Homo sapiens: one gene and its partners. The protein of the gene in region 3 purifies or fractionates together with the protein of the main gene of each other region. This does not show direct contact. Each region holds a gene or a part of one and is shown on either strand. Other genes may lie near its edges.

What was found.
Region 1: the proteins of SLC34A2 (region 3) and ENDOD1 purify together in Homo sapiens (co-immunoprecipitation; 4 studies listed by BioGRID and IntAct, with this or other methods). This does not show direct contact.
Region 2: the proteins of SLC34A2 (region 3) and ATP11C purify together in Homo sapiens (affinity purification with mass spectrometry; 3 studies listed by BioGRID and IntAct, with this or other methods). This does not show direct contact.
Region 4: the proteins of SLC34A2 (region 3) and LGALS8 purify together in Homo sapiens (co-immunoprecipitation; 2 studies listed by BioGRID and IntAct, with this or other methods). This does not show direct contact.

The regions. Positions count from the first base shown.
Region 1 is NC_000011.10:95,092,833-95,099,856, reverse strand, and holds part of ENDOD1 (endonuclease domain-containing 1 protein precursor), read right to left. Parts: intron 1-7,024. UniProt on the Homo sapiens protein: May act as a DNase and a RNase. Plays a role in the modulation of innate immune signaling through the cGAS-STING pathway by interacting with RNF26.
Region 2 is NC_000023.11:139,727,040-139,734,063, forward strand, and holds part of ATP11C (phospholipid-transporting ATPase IG), read right to left. Parts: intron 5,487-7,024; coding exon of another isoform or gene 5,397-5,486; exon of another isoform or gene 5,396-5,396; intron 4,717-5,395; coding exon 4,615-4,716; 3' UTR 4,612-4,614; intron 1,924-4,611; coding exon of another isoform or gene 1,861-1,923; 3' UTR 1-1,860. UniProt on the Homo sapiens protein: Catalytic component of a P4-ATPase flippase complex which catalyzes the hydrolysis of ATP coupled to the transport of aminophospholipids, phosphatidylserines (PS) and phosphatidylethanolamines (PE), from the outer to the inner leaflet of the plasma membrane.
Region 3 is NC_000004.12:25,650,869-25,658,863, reverse strand, and holds the start of SLC34A2 (sodium-dependent phosphate transport protein 2B), read right to left. Parts: upstream 3,014-7,995; 5' UTR 2,974-3,013; intron 2,401-2,973; exon of another isoform or gene 2,300-2,400; intron 1-2,299. UniProt on the Homo sapiens protein: Involved in actively transporting phosphate into cells via Na(+) cotransport.
Region 4 is NC_000001.11:236,533,966-236,540,989, reverse strand, and holds part of LGALS8 (galectin-8), read right to left. Parts: intron 3,494-7,024; coding exon 3,405-3,493; intron 2,112-3,404; coding exon 1,901-2,111; intron 427-1,900; coding exon 307-426; intron 1-306.

The DNA of each region.
Region 1 (7,024 bases), on a different chromosome or scaffold from region 3:
TATAAACACTAAGATAACAGCAAGCAGATTTCCTGAAACCAGTGCTGCCATCTCACAAACATAGAGGGAAGGCACATTTACCAAGCTGTGATAAAGTCGGTATAGGGACAAATGCAAGAACCTGCAAAGATGAAGGACTTTAACTTACTAAACAGTCATAAAGGAAAAAGGAATTTTGGCACGTTCAAGGAGGTATACGTTCTGAGTTAGAGCAAAGTCCCTCCTCTTGTCCCAAAGTAGGACTTACTGCATTACTGGGTTATTAAGTTTAAGTGTTCTGCTGGTCTTCCTTCCTGGGAGCCAAGCTGGCTGCAGAGAAGGAGCTCCTGAACAGACTAGGGCTGGATGATGGATGTGTGGGTCTGCCACCTCTGCTCAAGGAGCGGAGCTCTGGAGGGTGTAGTCGGCCTGGGCACCTCCTTCCCACCCCTAGGGACAGCTGGCATTGAGACAGGAGATGGGCTCTCCTCAGGCTCATGCACCACATCCAATCCAACAGCCTGTCTGGCAGCAATGTCTCCATACGCCCAGAGATGCAAGACTCTATCCCCTACCCTCTTATCTCCGCTACTCACTGAGATGCAGGGGACAAAATCTGTTGCTCAACAGAGTTAACACAGTTTTTGGGTGATCCATTTTTCCCAGCTCTAACCTGGTGCCTTATGGAAAATGTCTGCTTGCATAAGGATAATAGGAAGAGCTCAAGATGGATCAGTATAGAACAAGACTGTACAAGGGGGCAGAGCACCCTCGGCCCAATGGAGTACTTGCAATAACCCCACCCTTCCTATAGCCACAAAGGTACACCTGGAGGTGGTGAGCCTCTGATATTCATGGGCGTGTGACTGCCAGAGCTAGAAACACACCCTCTATAAAATCCTGGTAAATGAACATGTGAACTTTTAAAAGATAAACTTCATTCAAGAGCATTCAATAGGAGCTCACCCAACACATCAACAGGTTTGCAACAGAAGCAGTCCATGTGTGCTCTGGTGTCAGACAGCTCAGGTTCAAACCCGAGCCCCACCTCTTCTTAGCTGTGTAAAAATGCAATAGTAGTTTAACCTCTCTGGGCCTGTTTCCTCCTCTAAGAAGGATAATAATAGTACCTATTTCTGACGATGCTGAGGATTACATGAAATTACATGTGAAAAAAAAAACACTAGAAAAGTGCCTCCTGCCATATGATAAGCATCCAATGAGCTCTAGACTGTACTTACTTGAAGGTCAATTGAATACCTGAAGGTATCTCGCACTCAGAGTGCCCAAAACGGAGTACCTTTTCCTCCTACAGCTGTATCAAAGTATAACTGATATACAAAGAATTGTACATATTTAATGTGATGAATTAAATGTGCAATAAATATGTAATAACCCATCACATAATTAATGTGCTGGGTTTGGATGTATGCAAATACCCATGATACAATCACAACAACCAAGGAGGGAGACATGTCCAACACCTCCCATACTTTCCTTGTGTCCTTTTGTTTGTTTTGTGTGCGTATTAAGAAAACTTAATATGAAATCTACTCTCTTAACAAATTTTGAAGTGCACAATACAATATCATCAACTATAGGCATTACATTGTACAGCAGATCTCTAGAACTGATTTATCCCATGTAACTGAAACTTTATACCCATTAAACAAGAGCTCCTCATCTTCCCCACCCCTCAGCCCCTGGTAGCCACTATAGGTTGAGCATCTCAGATCTGAAAATCCAAAATCCAATATGTTCCAAAATCCAAAGCTTTTTGAGTACTGACATGACATTCAAAGGAAATGCTCATTAAAGCATTTCAGATTTCAGATTTCCAGATTTGGGAGGTTCAGCCACTAATTCCAAAATCCAAAAAAAAATCTTCAAACTGAAACACTTCTGGTCCCAAGCATTTCAGATTAGGGATACTCAACCAGTATTATATTCTTGCTCTTATGAACAAAAGCGAGTTCTTGATATGGCCCCCAAACAGCCCCTCCTTTTGTATCCTTGTCTTATTCATGACAACTCCATTCTTCTGATTATTCAGGCCCAAACCCTTGGAGTCATCTCTTCCCTTTCTCTCACTCCAAAGACTATGAGCTCTTTCTTCACAATATATCCAGAATATACAGTGCTATCATCTTGATCCAAGATACTACTGTCTTGTCAGATCACTGAAACCTCCTAACTGGTTTCTTTGCTTCTGCCCTTAACACCACATGTCTATTCTCAATGCAGCAGCCAAAATGGTCCTATTTAAATGTAAGCCAGATCACATCGAAGCTCTCTGCTCAGAACCCTGCACAATTGCTTCCCACTTCACACACAGTAAAACCCCAATATTTTACAAATAGCTCAGAAGAATCTAAATGATCTGCCGTCTCCTTCCCCACTTCTCTGACCTCATCTCCTGCTACTCTCATTTACTCTTCTCTAGCCAAACCAGCCTCTTAGTTCTTCCTCAACACACTCATGCCTCCAGGCCTTTGCAATTACCATTCCCTTTACCCAGAACGTTTTCCCCCTCTATAGATGCCTGCATAATTGGCTTTCTTACTTCTTTCATGTCTATACCCAAAAGTCAACTCCTCAGTGATCTCTTCCCTGGATGGAAACCTTGTTTTAAACTTCACCTTTTCCTTGATATCTCATAGCCTCCTTCCTTGCTTTTTCTCCTTAACACTTATCACTGTCTAATATGCCTTTTTTTTTTTTTTGAAACAGGGTCTTACTCTGTCCCCCAGACTGGAGTGCAGTGGCATGATCTCAGCTCACCACAGCCTCTACCTCCCAGGCCCAAATGATCCTCCCACCTTAGCCTCCATGAGTAGTTGGGACTACAGGTGCATGCCAGCACTCCTCGCTAATTTTTGTAGAGATGGGTTTTTGCCATGTTGCCCAGGCTGGTCTCGAACTCTTAGGCTCAAATGATCAGACCGCCTTGGCCTCCCAAAGTAGTGGGATTACAGGCATGAGCCACCATGCTTGGCACCTTGTCTTTTATTTATTTATTTTATAATCTATATTCTCTATTAGATATAAACCCTATGAGAGTAGGTATTTTTGTCTGTAACCACTGCTCTCTTTCCAGGACTTAGAATAGTGCCTCACACATAGCAGATGCTCAATAAAGATTTGTTGACTAAAATGAATTGACAGAGGGCTCAGGGCTTTCTTAAAGCATTAGGTGTCCCTGCCAACTGGAAGTCAATAAAAACTGAAGACCAATCAGCCCTTAAAGTATAAGTCAACTGAAACATGTAATTACATTTATATTTTCAAATAATATTTCAGCCATCTGTTTATTCTACAAAGTAAAATGTACCCGTATTTTCAGCTTTGATTAAAAATATAAACTACCCTCTGTTTGACCTTTTGATTGAGCCACACTTCTGTTCAGCACTAGGTCAATGAAGCATGACTGGAATATTAAACGGTGCTTCTATTCTTGGTTCAGCCTATGAGTCAGTTTCTTTTTCATTTCTCCTTCCTTTCAGTGGCCAAATAGATATATCGACAGGCAATGAATTATTACTATGACAGATGTTAAGTTTCATGAAAATGAAAGGGTAAGTCACCATTCAGAAGATATAACATGCATCTTGAAGGAGGAAATTTGAAAAAAAAAAAAAAAAAAAAAAAAAGCTTTCTTGACTAACAGTAATTCTAGAAGATAGACCAGATAACTGAAAACAAATGCTACTGGCAAATAAGAGGATTTACTTTCTAAAATTTTCACTTTCAGAGATGAGAGTTTAAAAGGAAGAGAAATTTTATGCCCAAAGAATAAAATCTCAATTCCCTAAGGAAAGCTCCATTCAATCACCATGAATCACCAGTAACGGAGCTAAAAGAAATCTGAAGCTGGCATTTACATACAGAATGGTATGTTAGTAGTGAAACCATAAACCATCCAAAGAACTGGATTAAAAATAAAATAACAAGTCTAGTCAGCCAGTTTGGATTCTGGAGAGAAAAAACTAACATTTTAGTTAGAAAATAGTGTGATAGAGAATAAAGAGAGTTAAGAGCTTTGGATTTGGGCAGTCATAAACTCCTGTCCAGGTTTTGCCATCTAGAAGCTGTTTGACCTTGGATAAGTTACTTAACTACTCCGAACCTCAGTTTCCTAAACTATAAAACACAAGTCATAATACCTAGAGTTGTTATAGAGATGAGATGAGTTAGAATGTGAAGACCTTTGACATGGTAAGGGATCAATAAATGATAGTTCCTTGCCTAGATTGTCCAGATATAAGTCTAAACTGAAAGAATAGTATAGGGAATTGTCACCACTGGACTGCTTCAGGACAGATGTCCCTGAAATATTCTGCCAACGCAGGTAAATACCTTAACTTGATCCTGAGAATGGCCTGCAAAACAAAAGGAAACACTAAATCCAAAGATGAAGAAAAAGCCAGAAGGGAAAAATTCAACAAAGGTTGGAACCATCCCCTGGGTCAGGCACTTCCCAGTCTTATCCAGTCTCAGCACAATAGACTGGAATGCCATTGCTCACTGTTTTCTGACAACACACTTCTTGGTTTTCCAGGACAGAGAGGGTGGAGATGTCTTTGGTACCTGTTTGGTTTGTTTTTGCTTTTAATCACTCAAATCCACCCTCCATCCATTCATTCAATCTTCCACACATTTCATCTCTCATCATGCATTTATGAAGCAGCTACTGTATGAATGTGGGACATACACCAAGCATTTGAGAAGATACATGGATAGATATTTTACTTTTTAGGAGAGATTTGCAGAATTGTAGATGTCACCTATCTAATCCAACATTCCATTTGTGTGTGTGTGTGTGTGTGTGTGTGTGCGTGCACACGCCTAGCACCTACTGAAGTAACACCTTATATACATATTAATATTTACTAAGAGTTTACCATATTCCAGGTACCATGCCACATGCTCTCATGTGTTATCTTGTTTATTTGTCACAACCTCTCTATAAACACTTTTACAACCTTTAATGAACAGATCCAAAAAATGGGGCTGGAAGTCACATAGCTTGTAAATGGAAGAGCAGGGATCTGAATTAAGTCTCTTAATTAAGGAGTAAGAATCAGGATTGTCCTGTTCACTGCATTCCTTACACAGAGATTTAAGTGTATGATGCTCTATATATCTGTTCTCTGACACAATGAAAAGAAGGCTGAGGTTGGAACAAATTGAACAGTATTTCTGTTTCAGGTTGTATAAGCCATGGATGGAAATTAAAAATCAAGGACTTAATCAAGGTTCTAACTTGAAACAACCATTTGCATTTACTAAGATCTGAAGTAAGACCTCACTGTGCCCTCCAGGAAAATGTTTTTGCAGTTAACCAGAATATCCCCTTCATTCCAGAGTAAAGTGACACTTGAGCAACCTTTATGCAGCCAAGTAAGTGCTCCCACTTGTCCTATGACTGTCAGAAAATAGAAGTGGAGTAGAAATTAGAATTCTCACATAAAAGATGAAAATTAGAGTCCTAAGACCATTAGCGCAGTGGATCCATTGTGAGATCAAAGAATCTCCACAGTGTATCAGAAGAGTAATCAGTAATGAGTTCAAAAATAAGCTGTGTGACCCTAAAACACCTCAGTTAACCTCCCTTAGCCAGTTTCCTCCTTTCTACAATGAAGATAATATCTACCTCACAGTATTTTTTAAGATTGAACAAATATACACTATTGTTACTGAATATATAAATTATATATTATATAATTAATATGTATAATATATTAATTATATAATTTATATATTCAGTTCCTTCCATGTTTATAAAATGATAGAGCTTTATATGTTGGCTTCTGGCATAAATCAGCAATGCACTTTAGAAAGGTATCATTGGCATCTTATCTAAAAATTCTTCCATTAAGTGGAAAGGAGTCAACAAACTAAAAGGTTTGAGGCTTCCTGCACTAAACCAGAATCCAGTTCTCAGGTTTCTGGAGTCTTGACTAGAACTCCTCCAAACCATCTCCTGTAGGCAGAGCAGAGATCAAAATCATTTGGGATAGTTTCAAAGGCCAAAGCTAAGACTGATGGAGTGGCTGCAGAGCAGGGTTCCAGCTCTGCATAGGGAGCATGTTTGTAACAGTTGCTGCTGGCCAGCCCTGGTGCAAGCTTCTGAAACAGGAAGCGCCCCACTGAGAAAACTGAAGCAGAACATCTCACCTGCTCCTGCCTGATTGATCCTCCCAACATCAAATTATTTTATTCAACACTTATCGCGTGCTTTCTATAAGCTGGGCACTAGGAAAAGAATGAGTAAGATGCAATCATCATTCCTCAAGGGCTCAAGTTGGGGAGACAGATACATAAGCAGATAATTACAAAACAACATGGTAAGTATGAAAATAGAAAAACTATAAGAGCACTGAAGGGGTGAACCTAACTTGGGAGGTGGATACAGTTCAGGTGGGGAATTCTTTCTGGAGGAGGTGACACCTCAGCAGAGTCTTAAAGGATGGAGTAAGGGCAGGAAGTGAAGGATAAGATGGGGTCTGTGTAGAAAGGGAATTTGGGCAAAGGGAATCAGCATGAGCTAAGAAACAGACATCACAAACAGTCTGGTTTATGAGAGGAACTCCAGGCAGCTGGATAATGCTAGAACATAAAATATGAGGGTGGAGCATGGTGAGAAACTAGATTGGAGCTGGAGACAGGAGCTAGGCTATGGAGAGCCTGTAAACTGCATTCTGCAGTGTGAACTTTGTCCTGTAGGGGCTGGGCAGGCAACACTTTACAGATTTTCAGCACAAGAGTGACTAAGTTTCTGTGATCTTTGACTTAGGAGATTCTTTTCAAAGGGAAACTGCAGTGTGGACTCAAAAGCTGCCGAACTGGGCTTTGGGAATTCAGTGTCACTGCTGCCCTGCCTGACTCATCACTGGAGGCAAGCACTGAGTTCCTTTGGTCTCCTGCCTCTTCCTCCCCTGTGTGCGGGTCCTCTTGGTAACACTGACCTCATAAAAAGGTGATGTGGGTACAAGGAGACTCAGCATTATAAAATGCTTGGAAGCCGCCAAGGGTACACATTGAG
Region 2 (7,024 bases), on a different chromosome or scaffold from region 3:
ACTCCTTGTCTTTCTTTCTTTCTGGCTGGAAGGAATTTTACATGCAACCAGTTATTTTTCTACTAGATTATTCTGTTAACTCTCCAATGGTACTGCATTAAACAAGCCTCTCTACTGTGGCTCTCTTGTCTGTATTCACAGTTCCCATAGATTTTATGTAAAACAGCAATCATAATACAGCAACAACAACCATAAGAACAAGAAAACAAACACAAAATATCAAAAGCTTTCCTGGGTTAGACTTTTTTAGCTCTTTGGAATAGGCAAAGAATATAGAGACTTTTGTTTTCAGCAGCTTACCTCAAATACGGGCTACCAGAACACAGCACACTTAGGTAAGTTGTGAATGACATGTAACAAAATGCTCAAAAATAATACTGATATATGAGAGCAAATGAAATAATGAAAAAGGGTCTATAATGATGGAATGGCTTCTGATAACTGAAATTATGTTCTTTTCTAGAATTTAGAAAAAAATCATACCTAAACATTAACACAAAATATATGTGGAAGAATCAAATGTGCCATATGGACTATATAAATATAATACAGATTAACTCCAATACTTTTCCAAATCAAGGTACAATATAAACATTAATAATAGTACAGGCATGCCAGAAAGACAAAAAAAAAACAAAAAAACTAGCAGTCAAATAAATATGGTCATTTATATCCAAAAAAGTATGTGTTTAACATTGAATGAAGACATTTCACATTTATGTTTCAAGTGAACTAATTAGAAGGCTAAACCTTCCTTCTAGTTCAGTTAGTCAAGGACTTTACTAAGGTCAGTTACATGGTTTAGAGTTAGACCATTTCCCTGTCCAAGTTAAGAGACAACATTCATCTTCACAGAGTCATGGCTCTACAAGCTGAACCACCGTTTTGGGGTGGCTCCTTCCCCCTTTCCAAATTGGCCAAGTTTAAGAAAAAGCACTGCATATATGCATAAATGCAATCTCTTTCAAATAAAAACCGTCAAAAGTTTAAAATAAGCTATATTTCTTCCTCTTCACATAAAATTATAAAAGGCTGATATTCAGAATGACCTTTATTTTTATATAACTATGGTTTAAACCACCTTACTGCAGATCCCAGTAAAATCAACACTGGAAAAATCTGTTTATTTTCTAACTACTTTGAGGGGCTACTAAGTGATTGGAAATGTTTTATACTTTATTTTCAAGTCTAGTAGGCTTACACCCATAAGTGGGGTTTAATTCAGAAGAATAAAAAATAAACAATTTTTTTCTATTCCCACAAAAATACCCGTAAGTTAACACTTTCCACATAAGCGTTCAAGGTATTTTTTTGGCAAGAATATTCTACCAAGACATTAGTAGCACATGGGTAAACAGAAGGGATTAACTATTCTGTCTGATGCATTGATACTATTTAGTTATTCTGTATTTTCAAGTATTCCTTATGTACTTGGGAAAAAAAATTAAGATGATCATTTAGGAGGAATGAGAAATGTGATCCAAATAGTCTATTTCTTCTGCCAGGCAAAAAAAGTAGTATTAGCAAAATCTATTCATTCTCATTGCATAACTTCTACTTCATACTATTGTATTTAAATCCATTCACAAAGTTCATGGGTTAAAAGAGCACCCATTTGAGTTATATTACTCTAACTAAAGCCAGAATTCTAAGTATTCTTGCTTTCAACTTTCATATAATTCTTAACTTACAGCTTTGGCCATAAAGGCTACTTACAATAATGGTAAATGCTTAAGAGAATCATTTGGTATTTTAATGAACATTTATTGTGAACTCTAGACATGAGAGTGGTTTAGTGTGTTGCGTATCAAGTATCCTGAGATGATAACTTTTTGTAGTTGTTTCTTCATGCTTTCTTTTTTAGCTGTAACCACTGTCAGTATGCTTGTAGGACAATAACATAGGCAGTTCAAGATTCGGATTCTGAAAAATGTAAAATATACAGATTTAAAAGGCTTATTTTAATAATGTGAAACCATCTGTTAAGCATTTTCAGAAATAAGTAGTAAATTTTGTTATGAGAGTAAAGCAACTGTCTTAACAAAGTGCCAAGTTTTATTCACATGCAGGGGAAAAAAAGAGTGACACTATAACCAGATTTTAATCCTTTCTTCATTTGTCAGCTGAATAGATTCAGGCTTGCTTTTTGCTTTTGGATTGTTCCAGGGTTCTCCTAATACTTTCTACCTCTGGGATTATTTACCATAGCAGAGGTTTAGCTTGCTGTGATCCCTTCTCCTCTAGGCTGGGAGGTCCTTGAAAACAGGAACATTTTATTTACCTTCTATCTCCAGCAGCTAGTAATAGTGTCTGGCACACAGCAGATACTCAGGAAATGTTTGATGAATGATTAGATTGCTGTTTTTCTTGATGTGTTAATTTTGACAGAGGAAGTCTGAAGATATATTCAGCTTTGGAAGATTATTGTGAAAATATTCTTCCTTTTTACTGAAAGAAGCATATTTCCCCCCTACAATATGGAAGTTAATTTTCCTTTTGGTAGATCATGTATCTATGAGTCGATTGATTCTTCTGTTTTTTCTTATGCTTCATCTTTTTGGAAGAGAAACCACGGATATTTCCCTATCAAATCTGTAGATTCTTCTCTGTCCTCTAAACATCATCAAATGCTATGATCAGGATGGTGCATGACAGACAAACTGATCATTAAGTGTAAGTCAAGTATGTTAAGAAATGGAAGTCATATGTCAAAACAGGGAGCCTGATTCTCCACTCTAAAACTCAATCTTTTTGAACCTGAGTAGTGGAAGGTCTTAAGTAGTATGCTATTTTCTTCCCATTCTGGGACACCTCCTTTGCCATGGCTGGACTAGAAGCTCATTAGAATACCTTCCATTTCTATTTATGTTCCACATTCTCCAGAACCACTAGTAGGTTTTCAGGTAGCTCTGCAGGGTCATGGTGACTCTAACCAAAATAAGGTTGCCATTCATACTGAGAATGTAACTCACATTGAGGAGTTAGGTAGTTTCCTTACCAACCAAGGAACAAACTAGATGCCTAAACTAGCTGCTAATTATTGTCTTTGGAGGAGAAATAATGCCACATGAAAATCTATTCCTGGAAGAAATAACTACATTAAAAATAAGACAATTGTTTTTAAAAAATACTTCCTCAGTTCTATGTTAGACATTGTAGGAGATAAGGCCCTGGAGAGGCCAAAAGCAACAGCAGTGTCTTCTATCCAGCCCAGTCCCCCAAACCACAGACCAAGCTAAAGAGAGCAATCCAGGGGGATACAAAATTAGCCAGAAACAATATAGCTAAAATGCATCACACAGCTTAGAACGAGGCAATCTGGGACAAAGGGGTCAAAGACCTTGAAGGTTACTTGTGAAGCAGATTCATTACTAAGGGAAAACATACTCAGGTAAGTTGTTCAAAAATGGGTAAAAAGATGCTAACTGTGGCAAAATGAGTCTGCTTCTAAAATAACAGTGCAGATGTAGACTGCGATGAACTCCAGGAAGACAGAAGAACCAATGGAGTCAATCCATTAATTTAACTTGTATTCTTTGCTAGAGGGTGGCAGAGTTGACAGCTGTTGAAAAAAATGGGCCTATAAGGTGGACTCGCAATTATTAGCTTCAAAGTGAACTAACCCACAATTGTATTCATGATGATCATTAATTTTTATGTGTGCATGAAAGATGGCCCTGCTTTAAGCTGTGTAGAGTTGTTTCCAAGCTGACAAGCTTGGAAGCCTTGTTCATTAATTACTCTAAATTCCTATGGATGGATAAAAGACCTCCAGAGGTCTGAGTTGTTAAAGGCCCCCACTGAAGGAAATACAGACTATACATAAAGGAGTCATTCTGAGTTCAAGGGGCCCTCCCACGGCGTATCAATTCCTCCCAAATATTTTTGGGGGTAAATGAAACATTATAAAGTGAATTTAATCATTTTTGGAAACATTAATTATAAAGCATTTTATATCATTAGGCAAGCATCCCCCTGAATGGCTATGAAATATTTTACCTCTGAAAGTTGAAACATTTAGCTTGAATAAAACTTGACATTAAAAAAGTTATGATTAGACTGGTTCATTGATATATATTTGGAGATCAGACATTTACAAGGACATAAGTGTATACAGTACCTGCAAACACACAGACACAGCACATGAAGGTACAAACACATTTAGTTATTTTCACATAATTCCCAAGAGAACATGCAATGCTAAATTGGCTTGATATTATACAGATGCAATTTTGGAATATTTACTTTTAGTTTTCCAAATGATCTTTATAAATCAAAGTTATATTTCCTGATCAATATTAACAAACATTTTCACATGGTGGCCTTGCCATGACAACTTGCCCCTTACAAATTAAATATGCTGTATCAACATTTGGCTCTGAAAAATGTTTAACATTTTATTTGGGGGGCTTATCATATTTTAATGTTTAATATTTTAAATGCATATTTCCCCATATTCCAAGTAATGCATCTTTATATTTTTGCAAAGAATATTGTAAAGTTCACCACACCAACAGCAGAGAAAATTTAGAGAGTGATATTTTCATTTTTTCTTTATAATGCTGTTAATCCGATTTTTTAAAGCCAGCCCATTTGTTTAACACTAGGTACCTGTTACAATACATTAGATTCGTCTGAGAATGTTCGTAAAAGAAGAGGTCTGACTGAAGGTCTGGCGGATAATGAGTCAGATGCCCTTCTACAGCTCAGATTTCTCTGTAATAGTGAGGCAAAGATACTTAAAGCATTTGAAAATTGGTTAACCTACCTGGTGATTATATATTTAAAAAAAGGTAAAAGAAAAAAATCATTTCCTATAGACTACTCCTCTGGCCAAAAGTACAAATGATTACACTATATAGTAAATGTATAACATTCAAATGAATACATTCAAAGGCCTAAGAAAGTCTCCAACTCGAATTGTTTTTGTGGTAGAAGTAAACAGACAACAGTAGTATGTAGTAAACTTGGGTTTTTGGAATGGCACTGGTAAGTAATATGGTAAGATGAGTCAATATGGTTTGATTAGTAAACCTTACCATCCTTTTGGTGAACACCTCTGAGAGTTGTGCCGGTGCCGTATTATCAAACAAAGAGAAATTTGTGCAAAACATTCCTGTCCTGGTGAACAGACTAGCTCTAACACGCCATGGCCACTGCATACCGTGGATCAATGAAGACTACAGACCCGTAGTCCAAGCTTTTAAAAATTACTTCCTCTCCAGTGTGACAATTTGGAAGGTGAACACATGATTAAAAGAAAATGACAAAATACTCTAAGCATCAATAGAAGATATAAAATGAGTCATGAGAAGTAATTTTTCATAAAGAATTAGAAAATGGTGTCAGGCAAATGAGAATGCAAGCAAGTTGGTACATTAAGAAAGGAAATCACCTTATTCACTCCAAGAGAAACTGTGATTGCTGGAAGTTTGAGAAAGCATGAAGATAGCAGATGTTCCTGAGGAAGGGAGGCGTTTCGTTACCTTGTTCACAATTGCACAAAAGGTGGAAAATTGCAGTAGAAAAAAGAGAAATGCAGAAACCAAAAAAAAAAAAAAAGTAAATAATCTCTCAAATGTAAGACATTTAAAAAGAAAACTTGAGAATTCGAAGCCGAAATGATATGTTAGTTTTGAAGACATTATTTTCTGAAGTAAAAGCAGAGTCAGAGATAGGAATAGTCTATTATTACGTGCCAACTACTATTTCTCTACATATCAATTTGAAATTATTTTGTTAATGGGAAAATTGACTATTTTAAATAAAATAGCTTTAAAATATGCTTCTCGTTAAAATAAGACTTATCTCTAATCATTAATTCACTATCCTACATTTGTTCAAAATCCATTGGTCAAAGAGTTATGTCCAGGGTCCATTGCCAATCACCAATCTATCTTGAAGTAATTATCTCCCCTATGCAACTGTACAGATACACTATGAAGGGACTGACTGCTCTTAAGCAGTTGCAGGATAAAAACTTAATCAAAAATAACAATGGGAAAACATTTGGTGATACCACATTTCAGTCCCATTTGCCTCTGACCAATGCTTAACTTCCTTTCTTACAACCTAATTTGATTGGTTTCCCTGTTTTTCCTACAGAGTCCTCTTTAGAAAGATAGGCTAAATTTTACCTGGGTAAGGTATTATTTTTTTTCCCCTTAAAACACCCAGAAAAGTGAAAATGGATAAAGTTTAACTGGCAAACCTAAGGTTATTTTTTTCCTTCTGATTCTGTGCCTGAAATTATAAGGTAATTTACAGACTCAGTTTTGGCATTGCCCAAGCAAAACAGAAGATGAGTGGTCAACAATGTGGATGACTTGAACAACTCTGCTAATAAAGATTACCCATATTGTCTACTTAGTGACCTAAAATGGGCTTAGAAAAAGAAACCAGCTAAAGTAACATTTGTTTCCAGAAGATTCTAATAAACAATTAAACTTTCAAAGGTAAATAATTTATTCATGTTTTGACAACTACATTTTTTCTTGTTTTTACCTTAAATGAAGAAAGTTGGTGGAATGAAGAAAGTTGATAGACATATTGATAGAATGCAAATTACCAATTGATAAAGCTAGAGAATATTTAGATTCTGAGAAAAAGATTTTAATTGTTTCTATCTTCTATTTTATGGGCAAAAACCCTGCGACAAGATCAGCATGATACCAAGTTCCCCACCCCCGTGTTTAATGCACAAACCTATCTATTCAAGACTGCAACTGTAAGCACGTTTTGGTGTGCTCAAACACTTGTATCCAACCATCGGAGATAAAAGTATTTCTATGAAGCAGAAATATTAGGAGTTAATAGATTAGGTGTTAAAACTACTTTATAAAGGAAATGAAAGTACAGAAAGCAGGAGAAAGCATGGAAAGAGTAACTAAAGCAATAAAAAAATTGATATAGCTAGCAACCGGCAGTGGGGTGGGGTAAACAGGAGATAATGAGCTAAAACAGAATGAAATTTCCACATTCCTTTGCAGTCATCTAGAGAGCTTTGACACCAGCTCAATTAGCA
Region 3 (7,995 bases):
GCTCTGAGCCCCTCTAAGCCTTTCTCCTACCCCCATAGCCCTGGCGCAACCACTGCCTTGTTCTCTCCCAGCCTTCCCAAGGCCTCACTCCAGCACATTCTTGCCACCTGCCAGAAGCAGCAGAGGAAGGGAGAAGTCATCATTTGGAAGCTTTTTACTAAAGCCCAGGGAGGGGCTCCCCCGCTGCCACACTGGCCTCTATAACCGAGTTGCCTGTGTGCCTCACCCTCTTGGCTCCACTTCCTGCACCACATGGGCACCCACTGCCAGAAAGAGCTCTTATTCTTTCTTGAAGACCCAGGAGAGGAACTTTCTTGACTTGGCTCAGACTTGGGAAGCAGGGGAATGTAGGGTACCTGGCAGTCACCCAACCCCTACATTCGCATTGTTTGGGCTTCTCCAACCAAGACCTGTTCCTGGGCCCCTTGTGCCCAGAGCAGCAGTCAAGGCCATCTGAAGAAATGGGGAGAGGAGGAAGCCCAGGGCAGTGGTCCTGTGAGGAACCAGAACATGGACACACAGTCTCCCATCAGAATGGCAGCCTTCACAAGCACAGGGACTAGAGTATGGCCATTGTATCCCCAGCACATAGGACAGTGCTGGGCACATGGTAGCCAAGTAGTGTTTATTAAAGACTTTGTGCCTGGCACTTGCAAATTGGTGCACAAATTTACTCACAGCATTTCATGTATCTATGTAAACTTAGAGTCTCCTTTAAAATGAACAGTATCCTCATTCTATAGAGGGAAAAACTGAGCCACAGAGAGGTTAATGGCTTCAAATCACATAGGCACCACAACACTGCAGAGATAATTTCAACCTCATGCAGGCCAGTGTTCTCGGGATGCCCAGGAAAACTTTCTTGTACTTTGAAAGAATGACTCTGTGCTTCAAAAATTCCCAAGAGGGTGACGTCTCCTTTTCCTCTGCTTCCCTTACAGCCATCACAAGGAAAAATAATCACCCCTATAGGCTAAGGGTGGTGGCTCACACCTATAATCCCAGCACTTTGGGAGGCCAAAGTGGGAGAGTCCCTTGAACCTGTGAGTTTGAGACCAGCTTAGACAACATAGTGAGACCCTGTCCCTACATTACTGCTAATAATAATCTCTTCAAGGACACAATGGTGGTAGTGATGAGAGGAGTCAAGGAAGCAATTGGCCTGGGCCTCACATTGATAGATAACTTGAGTTTACATTTTTGATGTGGCACACTAATAAACTTTAAACTTGGGCCATATCACCAAACCACACCCTCACCATGCACTATCAATTTGTATTTATGATATCTTAAAATAAATCCTGTAAATAACTTGTAACTATATCAGTTGTGCTGCATTGTATTGGGGGGGGAGGTTAAAGCAGTTAAATTTGTAAATATAAACATCTTAAAAATACCGCAATCTTTTTATAGCCCTCTTTTTGTACCTTTGCATTTTAAAAATTCACTGAGATGAATAAATTCCCTGGGATGTCCTGATTGCTCCCTGCGGTCCCCAGAATGGAAGTGGGGGTGTGGGTGAGGATGGAGGAGTGGAAGATGCCTGAAACTGGTTACTAAAGCCCAGTTTATTCCAAAGCACTCTGATTCTGTGAGGCTGTTTTCCTCATTGCATTGAATTCGGGCTATTTTTTTGTCCCCTTTGTGTCTAACAGCAACAATCAGAAGCCCATCCTCATACCACAGGGGACTTGCTTCATTGAGACAGTTGAGCAATTTGGGGAGTTTTGGATGGGGCAATTTGTTTAGCATCCAAACCTTTTACAAAGCACGCCTTTCTTATCACCCATTCCCCAAATTACAAAAGCAGAGAAGATCATGATCAGCGGGCATGGGACAAAAGAGGCAATCTTTTTTATTTTTGTTTTTCTTTAACAATCTGAAACAACGGCCACTCCTACAAGCACAGTTTTCCAAGAATACCCAACCCAGGACAAGTTAAAGAACTGCCAGCACACAAGGGAAGAAGGAAAAAGGAAAGAACGACAAGGCCCAGAGCGATCAGGGCTAACACAGAAACCCCCTGGGGCACCCAAACAGGAAGAGGGGACTCGAGTGATGAAATCCACAAGCTGCTTCCATGAAATCAACATGTTTGAAAAAGGGACCTCCTCAAAGAAAACGAGATTCCAACTCTCTTCAGCGCAGTGCGAGCCACCGGTGGCAGGCACCGTTGCAGGGAACCTGAACTAACTCCATGCCATGCAGCCCCCAACTTTCTGGCCTGAGGATGCGCAGTCCCCGAACCCAACCACTCCTGTGCACATCTCCTTGTAAGTTATCTCCCCAGCCTGCTCACCCATTTGTGGCTTGGAAAACATAAATTGCGGGCTTTGCTCCCCAAGACGGCTGAAGGACGGACCCTTCGCTGATGGCCACGGGCCCTAATAGAAACAAACTAAGACTGTCTCCTAGGCACCTTAAATAACTGCAAACAAGCACTGTACCACGTGGAAGTCACACTTGGGTGGGGGGCAGTGTCACATCACCAGGCAGCCACCACAAACCTAGAATTTTCATGGTCCTGAGATGTCGCATTCCCCTTCTTATAAAGAATGGAAGACGGCAGCCCAGGGGCTCACAGGGACTAGCGTTGTCACATGGCTAGTTGGTGACCCAGCCACAAAGAGCCTAGCTATCCTGATTCCTAGGTGGAGATTTCTATCCCCTGGGCCTTTCCTCTTCCAAACCACGACTCTCAAAACAGTGATCATTTTAGAATCCACAAGTGTGGCTGATTAATAACACTGTCGATCGTAAGAGTGTAGCAGCAAAAGCTGTAATAAAAGCAATAACCGTAACATTAAGAAGAAAACAACTTGAACATTGTGGAGAGCTTTGTGTTTTTCACTTCTGCGGCCCAAAGCCAGCCAAGTTCCTTGAAGTCAGCACCGAGAGGTATTTGCAAGAATTAAGTGAATCAAAGTCCTTGAAAGAGCGAGGAAGCGCCCCTGCCCCGGCGGCGGTACTCACCAGCGCTCCCTCCGCAGGTGCTGGGCTGGAGGCGGCGGCCAGGTGGAGCGCAGCGCCCCGGGTATATATGGCGAAGGTGTTGCGCAAAGAGGCTGGCCGCTGTCATCACGCCCCTCGCACATTCCAGGACCGCCTGCCGCAGCCGCCGCCGGGGCACTGCCTACCTGCCGCCTTAATGAACCCATCGCGACTTCGCCCGCTGCGCGGAGAAGACGCGCGGCCAGCCAGGCTGCCGAGAGAAAAGCTCCGACGGGCCCCGCCGCGCGAACTGGCCCGAACGGCCCCAAACGGCCCCGCGCCCCTCGGCGCCCCGCGCGCCCTAGCCTGGCTGGTGCGCGCCCTCTCCCGCCCCGACTCGGTCCGCACGAGATTCCCGCAAGTGGGGCTCTCCCGCCCCTGCCTTCTCCTCAAGAACTTGAACCTTCTAGTCTAGCTCCTGTGAGGCTCAAGAGGTCAGAGACGTGAAGACACAGATAAAAGCCAGTTGGAAAGTCAGGGATAAAGCCCTTGGAAACAAAGCCTGGATTGTTCACCTTTATCAGTCTGTGGGGCGCTTTCTGCCCTGGGAGTCTGGGCTCTAGGTCCGCAATGGGAAAGGCTGGGACCGTCAAGCTGAGGAAAAGGAAGGGGGCTGTTCTCACCACTCCGTCCTAAGCCTGCTGCGGGTTTGGCAAACCACTGCGCTCGTTTCACATCCTGCTCTGCCTCGTGTCACCTGCGTGTGTATACAACAGTTCTCCAAACTGCTGTGAGATAGGATCTGTCCCAGGGAGAGTCCACCCCCATGCTTATCCCAACAGCTCCCCAGTTCTGTGCCGGGCACTGCTGGGCAGGCTTTGTCTCCAATGTGCACACGAAAGCCTTCCCTGGGGCTAAGACTGGCGCCCTCTCTAGCTGAGGTTTAAGGGGTTAGGGGATATGATACAATTACCCAGGATTTGCTGAGCAGGAAGAAAACCTGCTTCTTATTCTGAAACCCAGACCCTCTCCTCTGCTGCGCACTCTCCTGGTTTTATAGTGGAGCACAGTGAGGCTCAGTGAGCTTACTAGTTGCCCAGCTCCTCACAACAGCGGAAGCACCCTACTGGAATTAGCTGGTTTCATTCCAACATCGAGTTCTCTCCACTGTGCAAGGGGAAGGACTCGGGAGCACGACTTCCAGGAGCCTAGAGCTCTGGGGCTGGTGTTGGCGGTGGCTAAGCACACTGACTCTGGGCCGAAACTCCGGGAAATCAGTTCCCTGTTCTGCCCCTTGCTTTCCCTGGCTCCATTTGCTTATGTGCAAACTGGGAATAATGGTCCCCGTTGGAGTAAAGTGAGCTAAAATATGTAAAGAATGTGGAATGGTACTTGGCACATAAATAGTATTCAGTGCGAGTTAACCATGATCGTTTTCACAGGGAAACTCTGGTGTTGGGAGAAGATGGGTGGGAAGCCTTGATTAGACTCATCTAGAACCTTCACTGGAGAAATCAAATCTGCTTGGGTTGCTGTTATTACAGGGATGATGGTTTTGCTAGTGGGTGTTGGCCTTCAGATCCAACTCTCAGACAATGATCAACCAGTACCTTTGCAACAAGCAGCTTCTAAAGCATAGTCCACTGATGACAGGAATCCCCTGGCACCTGTTCACCAAGCTCAGCTCTGCCTCCAGCCCTGGGCAAGGCGGACTGCAGACACCACTTGGCTTTACAATGAGGAAGGGCTCTACTGCCAGGGTGCAGAGGAGGAAGCGTGCTGCACACACTGCTGTCGGTGAACTCGACCCGGATTCGGCAAAGCCTGGCTCTTAGTTCATGTCCTGCTCTGCCCTGTGCTTGGGGGTTCACAGGAGCAGGTCTTAACAGGACAGTCACCTCAATGAGAATCCCCTCCTGACTGTGGGCTTTCATTTGGGACACAGACCTAATTGCCTTTCCATTACTTTCAACAAGGAGTGAATGTAGGAGGGAGACCAAAATTTCAAAAACTTGGAGAAAGAAAAAGGTATCCCTTTTGTGTTCCGATTAAAAAGGCAAAACAGGTTCAATCCCGAACATTGTTCTCTTAATGTGTATAGATCTTGGTAGTAGATCAGGGATGGTATCTGATTCTAGTTTGGGATTGTAATTTATATAATTTTTTTTTACAAAGTCTGGAGGAAAGGTAGATGGCGTGTCTGTGTTCATCACTCTATAATCTCTCCCTTTAGGAGAGTACAATTTGCTGAAGAACATTTTCCTATCGTTATTCCATCTGAGATACAAAATACTCTCACCATTTAGTACTTCAAACATAGAGCCTTATGTATAAATACAAACATCTAAAATACTTTCATCGAGGCTGGGTGTGGTGGCTCACATCTGTAATCCCAACAGTTTGGGAGGCCGAGGCAGGCAGATCACTTGAAGCCAGGAGTTGGAGACCCGTCTACCAACATGGCGAAACCCCGTCTCTGCTAAAAATATAAAAAAATCCCAGCTGCTCAGGAGGCTGAGTCACAAGAATCACTTGAACCCGGGAGGCGGAAGTTGCAGTGAGAGCTAACTGCAATCCAGCCTGGATGACAGAATAAGAATCTGTCTCAAAAAAATTAAATTAAAAAAAAATACTTTCATCAAAAAAGTGTCACCAAACCGGGCACAGTGGCTCAAGCCTGTAATCCCAGCATTTTGGGAGGCCGAGACGGGCGGAACACAAGGTCAGGAGATCGAGATGATCCTGGCTAACACAGTGAAACCCTGTCTCTACTAAAAATACAAAAAAAAATTAGCCGGGCATGGTGGCGGGTGCCTGTAGTCCCAGCTACTCAGGAGGCTGAGGCAGGAGAATGGCATGAACCTGGGAGGCAGAGCTTGCAGTGAGCCAAGATCGTGCCACTGCACTCCAGCCTGGGCGACAGAGTGAGACTCTGTCTCAAAAAAAAAAAGTATTACCATTTTTTCAACTCATTTCAGTATATTTTTGCGCCTATTGTCCTATGAGGTGAGATTTAACAAGTTGGTAGGCTCTGTGTTAATCTGGAGAGGAAACACCCCATCCAGGGCTGGCTGCTACCCAGCTTCAGATATTGCATGAGAAAATATAGTCAGATGCTGTCAGATCTTGACTTTTGTGGGGAAGCCAGATATACAGGTCTTTATGTGAAATGTACCATTAAAAAAATACGGAGTAGGTCAAACAAAGCAGCTCTGTGAACTACTGATTTTCATCCTGGTGCTAGACATACTCTCAGCTGTTCGGACCCTGCCCCAGTGCCCTTTCTACCAGTATATGGCTTGTCCCCAAGGCCCTCTGGCACTTCTTTTTACCCTTCACTGGGGCTGACTTTCTTTACAACAAAGTGGCAGAGAGATTCCACAGGAGTGATTGGATGACAGCCTTCCTGGGAGGTGATTGTGTGGTGAGACAAAGGCACCCAGGAGTCCAGGTTCTCCTTTCTCTTCCTCGGCTCGGTGCCTTACCCTCTGAGTCACCAGGCCTGGGAAAACCCAGGAGTTCAGACTGATGGGAAAGTCCTAGCTCATTCCAAACTCTCTGGCAGGATGAAGCTGCCAGTTACTGAAGACAGAAAAGAGGTAGGGATGGCACATAACTGTCTGCTTGACTCTCAGCTGTCCAGGCAGGGCCTGGAGAGGAGGCAGCTGACTTCTGGGCTGACCTGCCCAGGGTACCCACCCCTGAGGACCAGTGAGCAAGCCCACTTAGTGCTTTTTCCCTGGCCGCAGCTGCTGCAAGAGAGGGGCACAAAGTGGATTGCATCATAAAAGCCTGAGAAAGTGTCTCCAAAAATAACACCTGAACAAAACCGCTTTGAACTTTTGCATTCATTAGACGCTTTTTCGGGGCCCTATGGCAGTGTTGATAATCTCAGAATTGTTCAGTCAGGCTCAGTGACAGGAAACCTATCCCCTTAGATACAGCCAGAATTCCAGAAAAGTCAAATAATGTGTTATCTAGTCATGAGACAGCACTGGACTTCAAAGAGTCAGGTTTAAATGGAGAAATGCTAACGGAACAGAACACAGGGCTGACATAATTACAGGCTGTCTTCAACCTGGCTTCAATATGTACATAAATATGCAGAGAAAAATACCGGAAAGCAATACACAAAAATGTTCATTGTGGTTATATTTGGTTGTGGGATATGGGAGACTGTATTTTTCTATTTGTATGCTGCTCCTAAAAGGATCTAAGACAGCTAACAGATCGACAAAGTATAATTGATTCAAAACTAAGTGAGAAAGAAGAGGCAAAGAGAAACGTAGGGAAGTAAGATTGAGGTGGAGGAGAGGTTAAATGCTGGAACCGTACGACACTGTCCATTTCTGTTTGTCAAAGACAGCCTAAAAGATCAATCATGGTAATGACTATTAGTACTGGTAAGAGTATGTGAATATTTTGCCTGAGTTATTAAATATAACAGTTCCTGATAATAAAGTTTGTATAGTTTATAAGTTATTTGGCAAGCCAGTGAGTGTAAAGCATTATCATAGGCCTGGAACTTAGTAGGTAAATACTACTCCTTTTATGTCCTATTATGTGTCTGTTATGACTAGAAGCACCGCCAGACTCTCAAACTCTGGCCTCTCAGAGCTCACAGACCCTTCCCACCACACTGTATGCATGCATTCAACTCATGGTAGGTCCAATACATAACTATCGGTTTAATGAATCAGGGCCTCCTAATCTCAAACTGAAGTTGACATTTGAATCTTGCCCCCATGAAATCAGGTTTTTTTGGTTGCTGTTTTTTTGGGTTTTTTTTTTTTTTTGAGACAGAGTCTCACTCTGTTGCCCAGGCTGGAGTGCAATGGTGCGATCTCAGCTCACTGCAACCTCTACCTCCCAGGATCAAGCGATTCTCCTGCCTCAGCCCGCCTCCACCTCCCAAAGTGCTGGGATTACAGGCATGAGCCACTGTGCCTGGCAGAGATCAGTTTGTGTGTGTGTGTGTGTGTGTGTGTGTGTGTGTGTGTGTGTATGTTTGAGACAGAGTCTCGCTCTGCTGCCCAGGCTGGAGTGCAGTGTTGTGATCTCGGT
Region 4 (7,024 bases), on a different chromosome or scaffold from region 3:
CAGCCTAGGAACCTGTCTTACAGAAATACTCCATTTTATGCCCATGCAAAGGAAATAGCTGCTACCCAGCTAAAAACTGTGTGTGTTTTATTAAAACCACACTAGGTTTGAGATCCTACAGACAATGAAGCCCTGGCTGATAAACAGCCTTCTGCTAGTGTGAACAGTTCACTTCCAAAAAATTAATACTACAGTCAGGGAGATACGTCCTTTTTATGTCAATAGAAGTGTTATTTGAAGATTTTTTCTACCATCTCATCAGAAACCATCCTCATAAAAGACCCCAAGCTGTGGAAGGTCACTCACCGAGCTGAAGCTAAAACCAATTGAGTGAATATTCACTTTGCCATAAATGCCCAGAGTGTCTATTTTCTCTGGGCCGATCCTGTGGCCATAGAGCAGAGTATGTTTTCCATTTACAGCCACCTAGAGAGATACAGAAGACAGAGCCCCCCCCGCCACCAAAAAAAAACAGTTAATAAATTAACTTATTATCCAAATTTAAATGTTTCCTTGCGTCCAGTTTTATACCTGTTCCCACAGGTCTCCACACACATGACCAAATGGTAACCGAAAGCACCCAAAACACTAGCAGTGCTTCCAAACTTCTTTTGAGTTCCTGATTTGATTAAGCACCAGGAACTGTCTCTCCCCAGACAAACAGGCAGTCATAAGTATATGTGCGTGTGCTTGTGTGCGCCTCTGCATACATGTGAGACATCTGGGTTCGAAGGTCGCCTGGAAGCCCAGGCACAGGTGCCCTGGAGATTGTGAACCCAGGTTAAAGATCTGCCTGCGAGCTCCCCACAACACTGTCCCTGGAGACCACCCATGTGGCAGACACTCAAAATCTGTTGTATTTGCTAAATAAATTAATATGGACAAGTTACCCAACATATTTGAATTCGGTTTTCTTATTCTGAAGTAGGAACAGTCTCTACCTCAACAGACTACAGTAAGATGACGAGAAAGTAGCTTCTGCAGGTCCTCGGCACGCTACGAGGCTCCTCCTCCCTCCCTCTCAAATGCCAGGTACCACGTTAGGTTATAGGCAGAAAACGCGAGCAGCATACAATATAGTCTCTGACTCAGGGAGCTTAAAATCCCATTGTGGAGGCAAAATAAACACGTAAAGCCAAAGCACAACTGTTAAAAACTGTGAAAAAGAATGATACAGACACGGGCTCAAAAGGCCAGAGAAGGGAGAGGTGAATGGAGTTTGGGAGATTCAGAAAGACTTTCGGGCAGGAGCAGTATCCCGAAGATCAGAAAGGATCTGCGCCAGAGGCATTCGAGTCTTCTCTCGCGTTGGTACATACCTCTACTGTGGGCAAGCTCCACAGGCCAGAGGGCCAGCAGGTGTAAGCTTCTGGGACCAAATTCAACCGTACACATACACGCTAGGTACAAGACACTCCATGAAGCCAGAGATGGAACTGACATCAAGGATTTCTAGGATCTCCTCTGGGTCTAAAATCTCATGATCCTACGGAACTGTCTTGTGGCAAGACTTGAATTTACAAAACCCTTCTGATTTCTTCGCTGGGATTGCCCTTGTTAGCTCTTCGGGTGGTGGCGGTTATATTATAACTTACCCTCCCATCATGAACATAATACTGTGTCAATTCGGAACTCAGCCCTGCTAGGAGAAATAGGATCTAATAAAAAGATCTGGTCACAGTGGACCATATTTCTGCATGGCAACAACTGGCTGGAGAGTAGTGGTGCCATACCTCACATTTAGGTGCCTTCCTGGTCCTTTTATGGAGAAAAACTACAAAGCCAAACAAACTATATCTCAGGTGTAGGAAATATAAGGCTGGGCTCACAAATGTGAAAAGCACCCCTGTGCACTCCTGCTCACTAATGAGGACTCAACCTGTCCCTCTCCAAAACCTACCTGGAATTTGTCCTTCAGCACCATAATCACGATCTCAAAAGACTTTTCTCTTTTGAAAGGCGTGTCATAGGTGATCTCTTCCCGTCCCCATTTTTCATTTATCAAAGTATTGCAAACAATGCAGCCGGCCCTTTTGAAACGAGGATTGAAATGAAAGGCCACATCGGCTCGAGGTTTCATGCTGCTGCCATTCTGCAGATCCACCTGGAATCTATATGAGGGAAGACACAGGGGCCCCATGAGTGCTCAGAAAGGAAAGCCACCAGTAAAGGACCAGCAGGCACTACACTCCAGGCCCAGTGACAAGGGACTGACCAATCCCTCCTCATTCATTCACTATGAGGCCTAAAGAGCTGACTGTCTAATCTTTTCTGTCTTCCTCAGTAAAATAGCCCCTGAGTTTGAACTGGGTCTGAATCTGCCCAGAATAAAAACCTACCTTTCCCAGCCTCCCTCGCAGCTAGGCCTGCCTGTGCAGCTAAAGCTCTGCTGGTAAGATGGAAGTGAAGTGCTCAGGGAAGGCTACTGGAAACTGCCTTAGAAGTCAGCAAGCACTTGCCTTTTGTCCAGCTCTGTTTCCCCGCAAACACCACATGCACCCATCCAGCTACCCAAAGCACAGAAGTGAGGGCTGGAAATCTGGCTGCCAAGGAAAACGGGAAAGGGGACCTTACCTCACCCTCAAGATAACAGAGTGGTGAGCTCGAAGGAGTCTACTTCTCTAACGACTTGAAGGAGTTAACTGAAAAGGCCTGGGCTGTCTCCTTGAGACTTAATTTTCACATCTTAAACCACTGCTCTTCAGGTGTTAGGTACACAGAGCTGAGCCCAACACTAATGATACCACAGCTTGTATCCAAAGCAGGTATTCAGTAAAACCATCTGAACTAGATCTGTAATGCTGTGGGAATGTCAGACTAAAACTAGACTGTCCCTGTCATCTGACCACAATTCCTTTCTTTAATGACATACCTAATTCTTTTTCTTTTTCTTTTTTTTTTTTGTCACCCAGGCTATAGTGCAGTGGCTCGATCACAGCTCACTGCAACCTCAAACTCCTGGGCTCAAGGAATCCTCCTACCTCAGCCCCCTGAGTAGCTACAACTACAGGCGCACACCACCAAGCCAGTTAATTTTTAAATTTTTTTTTTTTTTACAGATGGGGGGTCTCACTATGTTGCCCAGGCTGGTCTCAAACTCCTGGCCTCAAACAATCCTCCTGCCTTGGCCTCCCAAAGTGCTGGAAAAGTATGTTTAAGTCACCACATCCAGCTGATAGTTCTAATTTTTTATACTGAAATCAGACTTACAGCAATGAAATAAATCCCAATAACCTTTATTTAGTCATTCATTCCAATCTCCTCAGCACCTTGGCCAGGGCTGCTGATGAAAGCTAATTGGGCCTCAAAGTATCAAATGGTCTCTCCCGCCTTACTCTGTTATCATTCCACAATCACAAAAAGACAGCCTATTCATGCTCCTTCCTTTAGCACAGTGATTTTACCTGTCTGCGTCACTAGGAACATGCCCACGTATCACAATCAAAGTTCCAGGATCCAGCTGATCAGGAATGGTGCCAACAAACGGGATTACCTAAGAAAAAAAATTTAACAAATGTACGTTTACATAAACAAAATTACTTACTAAGCAATTACAACCCACACTCATTATTGATAGAGAAAAACTACACTTTTTAAGGCTGCACATAAATCTGCTCAGAATCCAGCATTTTCCAAGTCATCTTTCCTATTCAAACAGCTAGAAAAAGGAACTGCGGCCGGGCGCGGTGGCTCACGCCTGTAATCCCAGCACTTTGGGAGGCCGAGGCGGGAGGATCACGAGGTCAGCAGATCGAGACCATCCTGGCTAACACGGTGAAACCCCGTCTCTACTAAAAATACAAAAATTAGCCGGGTGTGGTGGTGGGCGCCTGTAGTCCCAGCTACTCGGGAGGCTGAGGCAGGAGAATGGCACGAACCTGGGAGGCGGAGCTTGCAGTGAGCCGAGATCGCGCCACTATGCTCCAGCCTGGGCGACAGAGCAAGGCTCCGTCTCAAAAAAAAAAAAAGGAACTGCATACCTCATGGCCAGGATATCTGCAATAGCTGCAAACCACTATGAGTTCTTTGGAAAGAGACACAAGGTAAATACTATTCATAGTATTTTGTATTTGGCTGAGAGTTTGTGAAGCAAAACTTCTGCTTAATATGATAATTCTAACAGAAAAAAAAAAAAAGACTTGTTGCAATGCCATGTCTACTCATTCCTTTTCCTACTGTTCCACTGCTGATCCCAACAGAAGGTTCGAGGCCACACTAGGCCCAAAGCCAATGCTGACGGAGACAATGACAAGCACTCACTGCCTCTGAAGGAAACTCCACGTTAAGCCACGCCCCCACACCTGGGATTCCAGGGCCTGCTCTTCTCTGCTGGACTCCCAGACTGCAACCCAGACTGCACTGTTAGAAACCAGAGAACTGCATGATCATGAGGATGAGTGGGTGCCTGTGGGTCTTCAAGACATGGCATCCACCTGCCGTGGACCAGTCCAGTCTGCAGGCGTGGACTCTGACAGCTGGCTCCACCCAGTATTCAGGTCTCAACCTGCACCCTCACTGCCCAGAACCCAGCCCTTTTTTTCTGGGACCTGCCACACTGCCAGATCTTGTCATTCCCCTTCCCCAGAGATGACTACACTGTCTTCCCAGTCCACTGGCTGGGGACCTGTGCTATGTGGCTGCCTCTCCTGCATCACAACCATCTGCCTCCATCTAGAGCATCTGACCAGGATGTACAGCCCACACACCGTTAAGCCTCACACTAAGCTCACTCAAATTACGATGTGCATGGTAAAACCTACCCAAGGTACTTCTGATTGTCAAGAAATAAGAAATAAAATAAGACGGGCCACAGAAAAGTGGTTATAAATTGGTGGCTCCTAAACCGAAATCGCCTTGAGGCACAGCCTCCTCTGTGGAGCCTTCTTCAAGCTCCCTGGGCTGCTGAGTCAGCCCCTCTCAGAGGGTTCATGATAGCACTTTGGATTCTGTTTGTTTGCATGTAGCTTTGCCTAGACTGTGAGCTGCATGGGGCAGAACTGGCTCATCACCTTTACCTCCCCAGGACACAGGTCAAGAGACGATCGGTAACTGCATGGTGAATGAATGAACTCTCACCTGTCTGGAAAGTGGGCTCTGGCAGGCCTCACACATACAGAGGAGAGGCAACAAAGCAGCTGCTGAACCGCAAGCTGAGCCCACAAGCTCTCTGTTGCCTTAGGCAATAAGATGAGAAATTACGGAAGCCAATTATCTATTTGTTGTCATGGCAATTGCTAGGAGCAGGGTGGGAGGCACATGACACCAGAAAACAAAAAATACAACAGACAGTGTAGACTGGGGCTACAGCTGCACATCAGAGTATCTGATTTTGTGTGTAGAGAATGGGGAAGGACCTACATCCCTACATTGATCTTTTGGGTCACAGCTGGTTCCAAGAATATATAGCAGCAGGTTTCATAGCGTTAATCTCTTAATAAAATGAGAAGTTTTTATAACATCAAATTTCATCTTAAAATTATCTTTATGCAGAATATTTAATAACACAAGTTAGTAATATAAGTGAGAAAGTAATCTATAGAGCCATATATAGTATGATCTCAACTAAATAAATATAAACATTAAAAAGAAAACCTTGCTAATACACACTGTATCCTGTATCAAAATATGCCATATACCCCATAAATAGATATACCTACTACATACTCAAAAAAATTAAAAATTAAAAAAAGAAAAAGAGAAACACTAAAGAAATCAGACAAAAATGATAACAATAGTTTTCATGGGGGATGATGGGATTTTAATTTTTTTCTTCATATATTTTCATACTTTGCAGATGTCTATAATAAGCATCGATATTTCTATAGCCAGAAAAATATTTTTAATTATATGTTTCATTTTAGTGTTGGAAAGAGCTTTTTGAGACAAAACAATCTATTCCCATCACTTTTTTTTTTTTTTTTTTTTTTTTGAGACAGAGTCTCACTCTGTCCCCCAGGCTAGAGTGCAGTGGCGTGATCTCAGCTCACTGCAACCTCTGCCTCCCGGGTTCAAGCGATTCTCCTGCCTCAGCCATCCAAGTAGCTGGGACTACAGGCATGTGCCACCATGCCCAGCTAATTTTTTGTACTTTTAGAGAGATGGGGTTTTGCCATGTTGGCCGGGCTGGTCTGGAACTCCTGGGCTCAAAGTGATCCTCCCAAAGTACTGGGGTTGCTTTGGGAGGTAATGAGCTTTGGGAGAAGCTACCGCACCCGGCCCCCATCACTTCTAATACCTTGTTCACAACTGTTTATAGGTTGTTCCAGTTTGAGAAACAACTATGCTAAGAACGGTGGCCACTTGCTGCTTTAGTTTTCTGGGTTCATCATGCCTTCTACTTCAGAAAAGATCCTGCATTACTTCAGTAATACTTTTTTTTTTTTTTAACTATGAGACACAGTGCCCTGCCGCTGACTCATTTAACCCACGACTATGTGGCTTCTGTGAAAACGGAGGACATACATTGTTTTCTAGGCTACTCCAAGCTACTTTGGTGATTCACAGATCATTATTAATTTACATTTAAAAAATTAAAATACAGATCTGATCACACTGGAGACAATACCACAAGCTTACGCCACAGTCAGGTTTGCTGTTATTTCCCAAAACACCCTTGCTGATTCATATTGCTTTGCCTTTTTGATGATTAAATGCAAGGCTCTCTATTAGGCAGACTGCAGCTTGAAAGAAGCCTAAGAGTCAGACACCCAGGAAACATAACAGACACCCAGGAAACATGGAGTGAAAATGTGATACTCTATTTGGCTGCTGAAAATTGGTATCCCTTTCCATATCTGAAAATCCCCTAGCTTATGAACATTAGACCTCATCTAGACTGCAACAAGGTAAGAGCAGGTGACAAAACTGCCCATTAGAACTTCCAGCTCAGCTTTTAAGTAAGAACCAGTGACAAGAAGAAGCCACAATGACGCAGTATTCACTCTGGCAAGGGGGCAGCCGCTATATCTGGGTTTGGAGAAAGCTACATCTGGGGTCAAAGGCAGCTACATCCGGGGTCAGGGGC